Linked DNA regions of Homo sapiens: region 1 is linked to region 2. Evidence: fine-mapped expression QTL. A gene starts in region 2. The other region holds a variant in brackets. All regions are shown on one strand. Distances are between the middles of the regions.

Evidence for each region. PIP is the estimated chance that this variant, and not a neighbour inherited with it, causes the effect.
Region 1: its variant is fine-mapped to the expression of LHCGR in visceral fat (GTEx, PIP above 0.99). The same link has a PIP of 0.9 or more in subcutaneous fat.

The regions. Positions count from the first base shown.
Region 1 is chr2:48,732,339-48,737,718 of GRCh38, reverse strand. All of the region lies in intron 10 of STON1-GTF2A1L (STON1-GTF2A1L readthrough), which reads right to left. All of the region lies in intron 1 of LHCGR (luteinizing hormone/choriogonadotropin receptor), which reads left to right. Among named protein-coding and RNA genes, the nearest start is that of LHCGR, 21 kb to the left of the region's middle. The variant C/A (reference allele first, on the strand shown) is at 2,567.
Region 2 is chr2:48,752,967-48,758,346 of GRCh38, reverse strand. It overlaps LHCGR (luteinizing hormone/choriogonadotropin receptor), which reads left to right and starts at 2,623. Exons shown (of 11, transcript NM_000233.4): 1 at 2,623-2,836. The coding sequence starts at 2,676. All of the region lies in intron 10 of STON1-GTF2A1L (STON1-GTF2A1L readthrough), which reads right to left. RefSeq lists an enhancer at 2,289-3,065.

The DNA.
Region 1 (5,380 bases), 21 kb after region 2:
TATTGGATGTTCATCTATACTGACTTCATATTTCAGTTAACACTGAAGCCTCAGCTCCCTCTAGGTAAATGCTGAAGACAATAGGCCAATAAGTGAAGACATTCCCTGTAATGAAGCCACCAAATAGTCCGATGCCTTTGACAGCTCAAAGATTTAAAATCATTTCAAAAGAGGAAAGCTATTTTTATTTTATTCTAAGATGAAAGCAAGTTTATTATCATTGTGAGCAGCTTTGAAAAGAACACAGAACTTCTTAAGACACTGTTAAGTGTAGAACAAGATCTTAATAAATACAAAAACACCAAATTCTTTTGAATTTAAATAATTAAATAAACCTCTTCCCATTTCAACAAGTTCATTAGGCAAAAAAGCTTTAACTCTCTGATTTCTCTCTTTTTTCCCTTCATCTGATTTTGTAGTGTTTTAGAATTCAGGATATAGCTCTAGCAATAAACTCATTATCTGTGGAAAATGAATGGATGTTTGTAGCTTTCTTAAATCAATAATATAGTTGGCATTTTTAACAACAATTAGAAGGTAGTGAATAAAAACACTTCACTTCTGCCATGTGTTGGGCAGAAGGAAAAGTAAAAGCTCTGGCAAGTGACCAAAGAGCCTATACAGTCTTTGGAGACTCCAGATTGGTGCTGCATTTCTTCCCTGGCTCTTCTCTCCCTCTGCACCTCCTCAGCCTGAGGGCATCAGAAGGCTTCCCTGCCCTGGGAAACATCTTGTATTCAAGCTCTGAAAAACCAAGGGGAGGTGAGAAACCTACAGTTATAATTTGCTTTATGCAATACCTGTCCTTAAAAAGAGAGAGTGTGTCAATTGAACTCTATTTTCCATTCACCCAGGGAGTTTGCTATTTAAAGCAACCCTGCAGTAAATCCATCTATAGAACAAAGAAATATTTGATAGTGCATATGTCTCCCAATTGATAGGTTTTTATAAGCAAGGATTTCCAGATTTTTTTAAAATTTTTAATATATATAACATACAAAACAAATCTTCTATTTTCTTAAAGGGGGACACTAGAGCCCACCTGACTGAAGCTCTCCAGGTAACATTACTTTGAGGATTAGTTAACAAAAATTAAACTGGACAAATTGGCTCCTTCCAAGGCCATCTGTGTCATTAAACTCAAAAGAAAAAAGAAGAGGGGCCCAAGCCCCAATCCTGGGTACCCAGGAGACATTAGAAACCACCAGGGAGGACATGATAAGGTGGCGTTATCTTCTTTAAGGTAATTAGATTTATCTGGATGCTGTAAATTTTCCTGTCACTGGACTCTGACACAGCTGCACTGAGTGCTTGGCAATTGGATTTGGCTGGGAAGGGGATCAAGTCAGGGCCCAGGTAAGAATTGATAGGAAGAAGGTCTAAAGATAGGATGGTCCTTCTGAGTAGTCCCACCCGGAGGCAAGGGGGCTGGGCCTTTATTCTATACATTGTCCAGTCACTGGATGAGGGCTGCCCAAAAGAGAAGACATAATCCTGGGTGAGGTAGCAATCTTGGTCTGTGTATTGGTCCATTCTCACACTGCTATAAAGAAATACCCAAGACTGGGTAATTTACAAAGAAAAGAGGTTTAGTTGGCTCACAGTTCTGCAGGCTGTACAGGAAGCATGGCTAGGGAGGCCTCAGGAAACTTACAATCATGGCAGAAGGCAAAAGGGAAGCAAGCACATTTTCATGTAGCCAGAGCAGGAGGAAGAGAGAGAGGAGAGGTGCTACACACTTTTAAACAACCAGATCTCATGATAACTCACTCACTCTCATAAGAGCAGCAGCAAAGGGGAAATCTGCCCCCTTGATCCAATCACCTCCAACCAAGCCCCACCTCCAACACTGGGAATTACAATTTGACACGAGATTTGGGTGGACACAGACCCAAACCACATCAGTCTATAAGCATAATTCTAGGAGAGCAACTCAGCTGAGAGCTTCAGCCACCCACTCTTTCCTAGCAGTTGGCGAAATTGGTGCGTCAGTACTAAAGAGTGACTTGGGTAGCCCACCACAGTATCCACTACAGAAAGTAACCCAACTCCACTGGGTAGTCCTAACACAGGGTCACCGTCTGTGCCAAGGGGCCCAGTTTGAAAGTCAGAACTAAGCAGTAAGAGATACTAGCTTGACCCTAACCAGACAGCAACCAGGAACTGTTCTAGGGCAGCAGTGTTCCCTAAGGGGTAGAGATACAGGGATCAGGATCTGGTGATTGAGAAAAAGAGAAGGCAGGAACTAAGAGAAGCCCTACTCCTAGATGGATTCTGGGGAGACCAAGCAAGCTACAGAATAAGAAATCGAGACAAAAACAAACACCAGCATAGCATGTGGGAAGGCACTGCAGGTGCACTCCTGCCCCCAAATATTAATATTATTGGGTCCAGTTTAGACGATGCACAAGCCTCGCCAGAGTCATGACCAATCACAAGATCCCAGTACTAGGATGAATGACTTAATTCCAGCCCTAAGGAGGACAGACTGTTTCGATTTCAACTTTAACACACAACTAGAAGGGTTGGGGACCTGCAGATGAGATTAATGAGTAGATGGAAGTTC[C/A]AAGCTGATGAAGCTAACGCAGACTTTGTAATCCAATTGAAGCATTTGTTTCAACATCTGTGGCAAAGGCACTTGGGCAAGGTGCCACCTGCGTTGCCTCATCAATTTATTTAAAAACAAAAGTTCAAAACTGCAAAAAAGACTGTGAAAATATAATAAATTTAAGTAGCTGCATAGTTCTACAGCCATATTTTTCCACAGCCGTCTCACCTTTCAAGAGAGAATCTCCACCCTGCAAGTTCAACCTCATATTTTCCCAGTAACCCTAATTCTTTACCACCCATCTGAGGTGCATAGTTGTGGTGTATCACCCTCTTTTGCTGAGACAGAAAGGGCTCTGTCCTTCCTTTATTTTCTTTGCTTTATGCATAGCTTTCATTCCTTTTTTGACCCTGGACAGCAGAGCTGCTGAACTGTCCTTGCCTTAGGCATTTTTGCCCTCAGTTCTCCTTGGCTTCTGCTCTATATCAAATGATACCGACTAGACCTTTCCACAATAGTTCACAAAACTATTGGAATACAAGTATGCCTAACTCCAAAAAAATATGAAGGAAAGGAAAGGAAGGAGGGAAGAAGGGAGAGAGGAGGAAGGAGGAGGAAGAAAGGTAAGCAAGCAGGCTGCCAATACATCAAAATAAACCTTTTTTATTTTCCATTTGTCTCTCTAGTACAGAGGGTTAAGTTGGTCATATTTCTTCATTCAAGTAACATTATCACTAGTCCATTCAAAGTCCCTCTCTGTTTTTAGTTATTTATTTTATCTCCTTCTCCCACTTCTGTTCCTCTCAACTCACCTTAGATAACAATCCTAGTGTATGTTCATGTGCAGGAGGAGGTTAATGTCTAGTGTTTCGTTTACATATATTTTAATTCTGCAAACAGTATATTATATCTCCGTAATTTCTTGTTTCTCTCAGTTCCATGATTTGAAGATCCACCCATGCTACTCTGTGTGCCTTTAGACTCTCACTTCTACAGGCTCTCCTATTCAGTTAGGTGTGTACGGTCCAAATTTTACATACTCCCTCACCTAGTAATGGACACCCAGGTTGCCTCCAAGCCCCTGATGCCACAATGCTGTGAAGAAAACGTTTGTACAAGATTCCTTTAAGTATCAATTTGAGAATTTTTCTCAATGTATACAGGAGTGGAATTGCAGGGTTATTAAGATCATTGTTCACATTGCTAAAAGTTTCTGGCATCATGGAAAGAATCATAGATGCATCCAATAGAGAGTGGGACACCTTCAAAGGGAGTACATTCAAACAGTTATCAACAAATCATAAACTTTATTAATAAATTCTGGAGACAGATACTTGAATGCTTAGGAACTGCTACCCATCAAAGACGAATCAGAAATGAAGATGTGACATTTCTGAAAAAAAAAACATATAAGTCTGTAGGGAAAATGGTTTTCGATTCACAGGACCACATTCTCTGTGTTGCCTCATGGGAACACATCTGTTGTGAAAAGCACAGTGCACCTGCCTAACCCCACCTCTCTCCCCATTCCCTGGCCCCCAGGACTCTTTCTTGACCCAGCCATATCCACAAAGTCACCTGCTGTTCACTTGGTGTCTCTTTTATAGGGGAGGCTCTAGTTTCACTCTCCCCACTGCTGCCTTTCCTGCTCTGCAGCATCAACATCAACGCTGCAAAATTTCAGCTTGCACCAGGGCTGCTTCTGTAGCCACTGGAGACTGCCATTGCATGATCTACAGCTTCTTGCACTTCTGTCCGACCTTTGCTCCTCATCCCTCCTCCCTACATCAATCAAAAGCTCAGGCAACCTCCCTGATCAAATCTGAACCAAACTGCTCCTCTGGGAGTCACACCATGCTCCCATTTGGAGGAGGAGGCTGCCTGCTGAGAGACTTCAGCTTCTGGGCTCCATTTGCATGAATAAACAGCTCTGAAGTGTTCTGCTGAAGCTTTTATGTAAACACTCTCCAAAATATGTTCTGCACTGCATTATCCCCAGCAATAAAGATTCTGGAATCAGAATTTGGCTGTCAGTTTTATTGATGCTGCAAGGGGTACAGTGGAATACAGCTTTCTCTTCTGTAAATTTATTGGTTTGGCAGTGCAGAGAGCAATAAAACTGTGTTTTTAATCAGGAAGCCAAGCGAACATGATTCCAGAAGAAATATAGGAAGCAAATATGCCATCACAAGAAGATTTCTTCCCACACTGTCCCTGTTCTTCTCGGATCCTTTGTTAAATGAGTTTAGGTGTTAAACGATGTCCTTCTTGGGAATGCCTTCGGGAATAGAATCAGAGACCAAAGTTGGATTACTTTCTCTAGGTTATATCATTTCTAAGAGATTATTGAGTGAAAATATTTTTCTGAAATGAAATTTCCTCCCTATTAGCACCTAGGGAGGAACGGCTGGTAAACCGCTTTGCAGAAGAAATAGAGCGAATGTGACATGCTTCCTCTCAGGAGAAGCAAGGTTGCAATGTCTGTCCCTCCACCTTGCTCACCAAGACATGGGATTAAGAGTGACATGCTTTGGCCAGTATTGCACAGGGAAAGGATGTCTGGAGTCATTCTGCCTCGTTGTAACCTTGTTCAGGTTACTTAGTCTCTTTGTGACCCAATTTCTTCTGCTATGTAAGAGAAATTCCCACCTCACACCATTGTTGAGTGAGTAAAAGAAGGTCACAAATGGGTGTGTATAACTCACATAGTAGCTTACAACTGTAGCAAGTCCCTTCTGGGACTGTAAGAAATCTTACTTTCATCTGCCCATCATGGAGGTGTTCTTTCCTAGAAGCTTAAAGCAGTCTCTGCTGCATAGACATGTTAAAAAC
Region 2 (5,380 bases):
AATTCTGTGAACTTTATTTTGTCATTAAAATGTAATCAGCAATCTTTGTGGGTCATGTTGGTTTGAAGTTCTCTGACAAAGTAGCTATAAGCATAGTTAATGAAACAAAGTCCTTTGGATTTAAAAATACTCACTCATAATGAGTATTAATGAATAAGATAGGTAAATTCCATTGTAACAAACTTTTGTGATTATAACAAATGAATCAATATGATTTTATTATAATAGTTACATTGCAAGAACTGATGTGATAATTAAGATCCAACTGAAATTAATCTAGATAGTAAAATTTTATGAAAACTCATTACAGTTGTTAGCTTTCTTCCAAACGAACAACCTCAACTCCTCATAAACAGGATTTTATTTCCAATCCAAGACAAGTTATAAGAAGTCAATATATACAATCCAATTCCTCCCACTAGCAATTCTGTAGGAGCTGCTTAGAAAGTCCTTGCATCTTTAGAGCCAGAAGAGCCTTAGGGATAGTGAACTTCAACCCTTCTTCTTACAGATGAAGAGACTGAAGGGCAAATCTCATGATTGACAGCAGAAACAGAAGGAAAATCCTAGTGTTCTGATTGCCTAGTCCTCCTACTGGAGTACAGAATTAAATGATTCTTCTGGAATATCCATTGTTTTCAAAGATTCAGGGGTGGGTGGGAGCAAACTTTTTTTATATATAACAGGTACACTACAGGGTTAAAAAAAGAAAAAAGTCACATAAAACATGAGACTTGAAAGAAAAGCCATTCAGGCACCTTGAGTTATTCATTCTTTCTCTCCTTCCATTCAAGATACATGGTGAAAACTTTTAAAAATCCCAGTGCCTACCCCAACTTCCCTACCAAAATCTGACAAAACTAAAAGAGAACAGAGAACATGACACCCAAAGTCGTCATGTATAATTACTTTTTACATATCCAGATAGATCCAGCGTGGTTGAGAATAAAGCAAGTGAGGGTATCAAGCTCTTCTCAGATAGTTTACTGAGCATCTACTACAAATCTGGGCCTCACTTATTCACTCTATTATTCAACAGACACATATGGAACACCTACTAGGAGCTAGAAGCTATGACATGCTCTGTTGATATTGAGATGAATAGAGAGGGGAAAGCAAAATTAAACCCACAATTACAGTGTGTTAGATTACCTGCTGTAGAACCAGGTGTTATGGCCACAACTACTCAACTAGGATGACTCAGAGAAGAATCAAAGTGGAAATGACATTGGGCTGAGTCTTGAAGGACAACTGGGAGTTTATCTAATGGAATAATGGAAAAAGAAGAGAAAATAGTGGGGACAGCCCATGCAGAGGTATTAAAGGGTGAGGAGTCATCTATAAGCAGTTGAAGAGAGGATCCAGAGAAGACAATATTATAGACATGAGCATTGTTTTTGTGCCATCTAGCACAATGTGGCCAAAGCCAAACAAGTTTTTAAAATAATAATAATCTACCCTCCTTGAGCAACAGACTGTAGAATGGTGAATGAAGGAGCCCATCCTTGAGAACTGGCTTCAGAGTGAAAGAAATCTATTCTTATATTTCCTCTCTTCAAAGCCTTAAATGCCTTCCCAGCTTTCAAAGTCCACCTCTTCCAGCAAAACTGCTAGGATTTCCAGAATCCAAACAGAATCCTTGGAAGGAAGAAATGATCAAATCAAAGAGGGGATATTATGGATCCCCATGATTACCGTAAAATTTTGTCTCCTAAGTTCTTTGGTATGTAGATCATAGCAGCTTTTTGCATTGGTGAGAGGTGGTAGGTGATAGACATGAGTTCCAGGTTTCACTACTTTAAAACCGTGTGACTTCAGGGAAGCCACATACCTCTTGGGACATTTTTCTCATCGCAAACACCCTGCTAGTTCAATGTGGAGCTTAAACATGATGTGAGGCAGAGCACCTGTTACAAGGTCTAGCCTATCCTGGGCCTTCTATGGGGCAGCTGCTACCAGTATTAGGCAGTTTCATTCATTCATTCAACAAATCTTTACTGAGGACTTACCATGTAGAAGCCAGAAGGAATACAAAAATAAATCTGAATTGGATTTTGCTCTCAAGGACCTCCCAATCTATAGAAGAGATACAGGACCAAGCCAAATAGCTATACCATAAATAAGAAAGCATTTACCACCAAGAGAAATTACTGGGGTAGTTGGGAGGATGGGCAAAGATTACTTGTAGAGTGGAGGGATTTGGTGAAAGAGAAGGGGAAAGGATTAGGGGTTGAGGATAAAAGAGAGGAAAAATGTCTGAGCCAGGCACTCTTACGCCTTCTGATGTGGGTATAGCGAGTATCCATCGGACCCTTTCACAAATGAAATAAAAGGGGTTCCGGGAAGCGTCACAACTCACTCAATTCAGAACTCCCCACCTCTAATCCAAAACATTTGCCATTAAATCTCTTTACCTCCTATAGCTAGGGCCATTTGCAGATGGTAGGGGACAAGACAGGGGAAAGTAGCAGGAAGGAGGTTATTGGGTCACTGGGCACTGTCGCAGGTCAAGGCAGAGCAGACTCAGCGGGGTGCGCGGTAAGAGGGGGAGGGCAGGGGCGGGCCGGCAGGGAAGGGTGTGTGGAAGGGCAGCCAAGGGGCGGGGAGAGGGGTGCGGGCCGCACTCAGAGGCCGTCCAAGACACTGGCAAGCCGCAGAAGCCCAGTTCGCCGGCCATGAAGCAGCGGTTCTCGGCGCTGCAGCTGCTGAAGCTGCTGCTGCTGCTGCAGCCGCCGCTGCCACGAGCGCTGCGCGAGGCGCTCTGCCCTGAGCCCTGCAACTGCGTGCCCGACGGCGCCCTGCGCTGCCCCGGCCCCACGGCCGGTCTCACTCGACTGTGAGTACACAGCGCTCCCGTCGCGGCGCCCTTGATGCAGGACCCTCCATCGCTCTATGCCACCTTCCCTCCCTACTCCTTTGGCCCCCTTTCCCTGGAAGCTTGGAGAAAAACGCTTTGCCCTATCAAATTTCCCCCACGTTTTAGGGTGATGAGAACCCAAAACTTGGTGGTTGTTTTTACCACCCCATGCCTCTGAGAGCCCCAGCCCCATTCTTTACCCCTGGTTGGGGCTGTGGCCGGGGGAGTAGAACTATTCAGGAACCTCAGGGGAAGGCCTGCTCTCTGCCGCTGCTTGAAGGGAATATGGGTGTGACGCTCCTCAACTCCTCTGGCAGGGGTCTCTGCCAGAGAAGTCTTACAGGCCTTTGAGCCTTGGGCCAGCCACGTCAGGGAAGGTGAATGTGAGCTCTGGCACCCTGTGGTCCTCTAGGAATGGAGTGCTCAGGCCCTATGGCCAAGGGTGACCTAATCTGTCAACTGACTGCTGGCAGTCACACGGGCATCTTAGTGAGCACACAAGCCGCTGCTCCACCGTGCCCAGATGTGCTTGAACTTCAGTCTCATGGTCTAATGGACCAAAGGCCCTGTGCCCTGCCGCTGGCACCCGCGCACCACCTCCACACTCACAGGCCTGATTGAGGGATTGTATACATCAGCAACCTGGGGGAGGGCGTTGTTTCTGGAGTAATGGGGTAAAGAGGAGAAGGGGAGCCTTTAGTACTAGACTATCAGGGTGTCATCAGGTCTCCTTTCTCCTATTTAGAAAAAAAAGTACCACATATTTTATAATACTATTTACATGAAATGTCCAGATAAACTGAAAGTAGATTAGTAGTTACCAGGGCTGGGGAAGCGGATGGGAGGGACAGTAGGTGACTACTAATCAGTGGGTATGGGCTTGGGGCGGGGGGGTGGTGAAATTTTTGTAAAATTAGATTGTAGAGACAGTTGCGTGTGAACATATTAAAAACAATTGCATTGTCCACTTTAAATTCTATAGTGTAGGATTTACATCTCAATACAGCTGTGAAAAGAGAAAAGGAAAGAAAAGAAAGGGAAAAAAAGACAAAAGACAAGAGTATCTAAAAGGCTGGTAGAGGTCTTGATCATGTCCTAACAATTAGAGATGATGGAATTCTGTGCTGGGGAAGGAAGGAGACCACCCCCTCTGCCATTTCCTTTGAGCCCCCAACAGTCTGTCACGGGCTGTTTCATAGAGGAGACTCACCCTCCCTGCCAGGCCAGGCTTCTTCATGTGGAAAAGTTAAAGGCCTTCTGGGAATAATTGTGGTTGAGAGATACAGTTAAAGGGTTGAGGGGTTTATATTAATTAGTTTCCATTAATTATCTTGTCAGGTCCATTCCCTGAAGGAATGGACCATGCTGATAGAATTTGTTTCAATCAATCCACAAATCCATGCAACAGGCCTTCCAAGTTCCAGCCCTGGTCCGTCCCTGACAAGCATGCCATGTTGCTCTTAAGAATGACTGTACTACTAACAGACTTTCTCACTTGCCTGCTACTTATCATACAGATTAGAAGAAACTGAGATCCAAGGAGAAGGAATAACTTGCTCAAGGTCTCACAGCTATTGAATAGCAATTCAGGATTTTATCTATTAATTATCTTTTTAAATTTGCTCATCTTTGTAAGAAAAACTACTGCTTTCTTAATAAAACACACACACACACACACACACACTCAGTTTCTCCAAAATTAGTACTGAGCAAAGAACTCCCACTGGGGGCATGAATGGGTGGGCCAAGTCCCAGTTCCTTTTCAATTCAGCTTTTCAGTAAGATCTCTCAAGGGCTCCTGCTGCCACGTGCTGTTCTCAGGAGGGGACCCCCTTCCCTGGAAAAGGCTGAAGTAAATTTTTTTTAAAAATCCCACTTTCTCCTGCTGCCTTTCAGCAGGGTTTCAAGAATCCTAGAACCCCTCAAAAATATCTGATAGGGCTGACTAGGTTTGGGGGTAGAGACCCTGAGCATCCACCACCAGGAACATCCTCTGCCAGTCATTTAGCCTCCTTAGCCAAGCGTGGTGACCCTCACAAGGTTTCATTTCCTGAGCACCAGATGGTTGAGAGATGCCCTCATCTTTCAAGAGATGCCCTTGTCACTCTGTGGAGGTTGAGCCTATGCAGGCCAAAACAGGGTAACTTTTGGCACAACATAGTGACACCAACATCCATATGACAAGAGAGGTGCATGTTAAGCAAAGGGAGGGTTGTTACTTCAAGGCAATATTTCTCAAAGTATGGTCTTAGCTCAGCAGTATGAACATCACCTGGGAAATGTTAGACTGCATATTCTCAGGCCTCAGCCCCAACCTACTGAATCAGAAACTCCAGGGGTGGGGTCCAGCAGGCTACAGATTAACAAGCTCCTCAGGTGATTCTGATGCATACTAAAGTTTGAGAACCAAGGCACAGCTCTCCAGGGAGGTATCATCTTAGAGAGGAAAAAGTATATTTTAAAAGTCCTTGTGCCATACACTTCCCTTCCCCACCCCCCCCCCCCCCCGCCAAAATCCGGCAT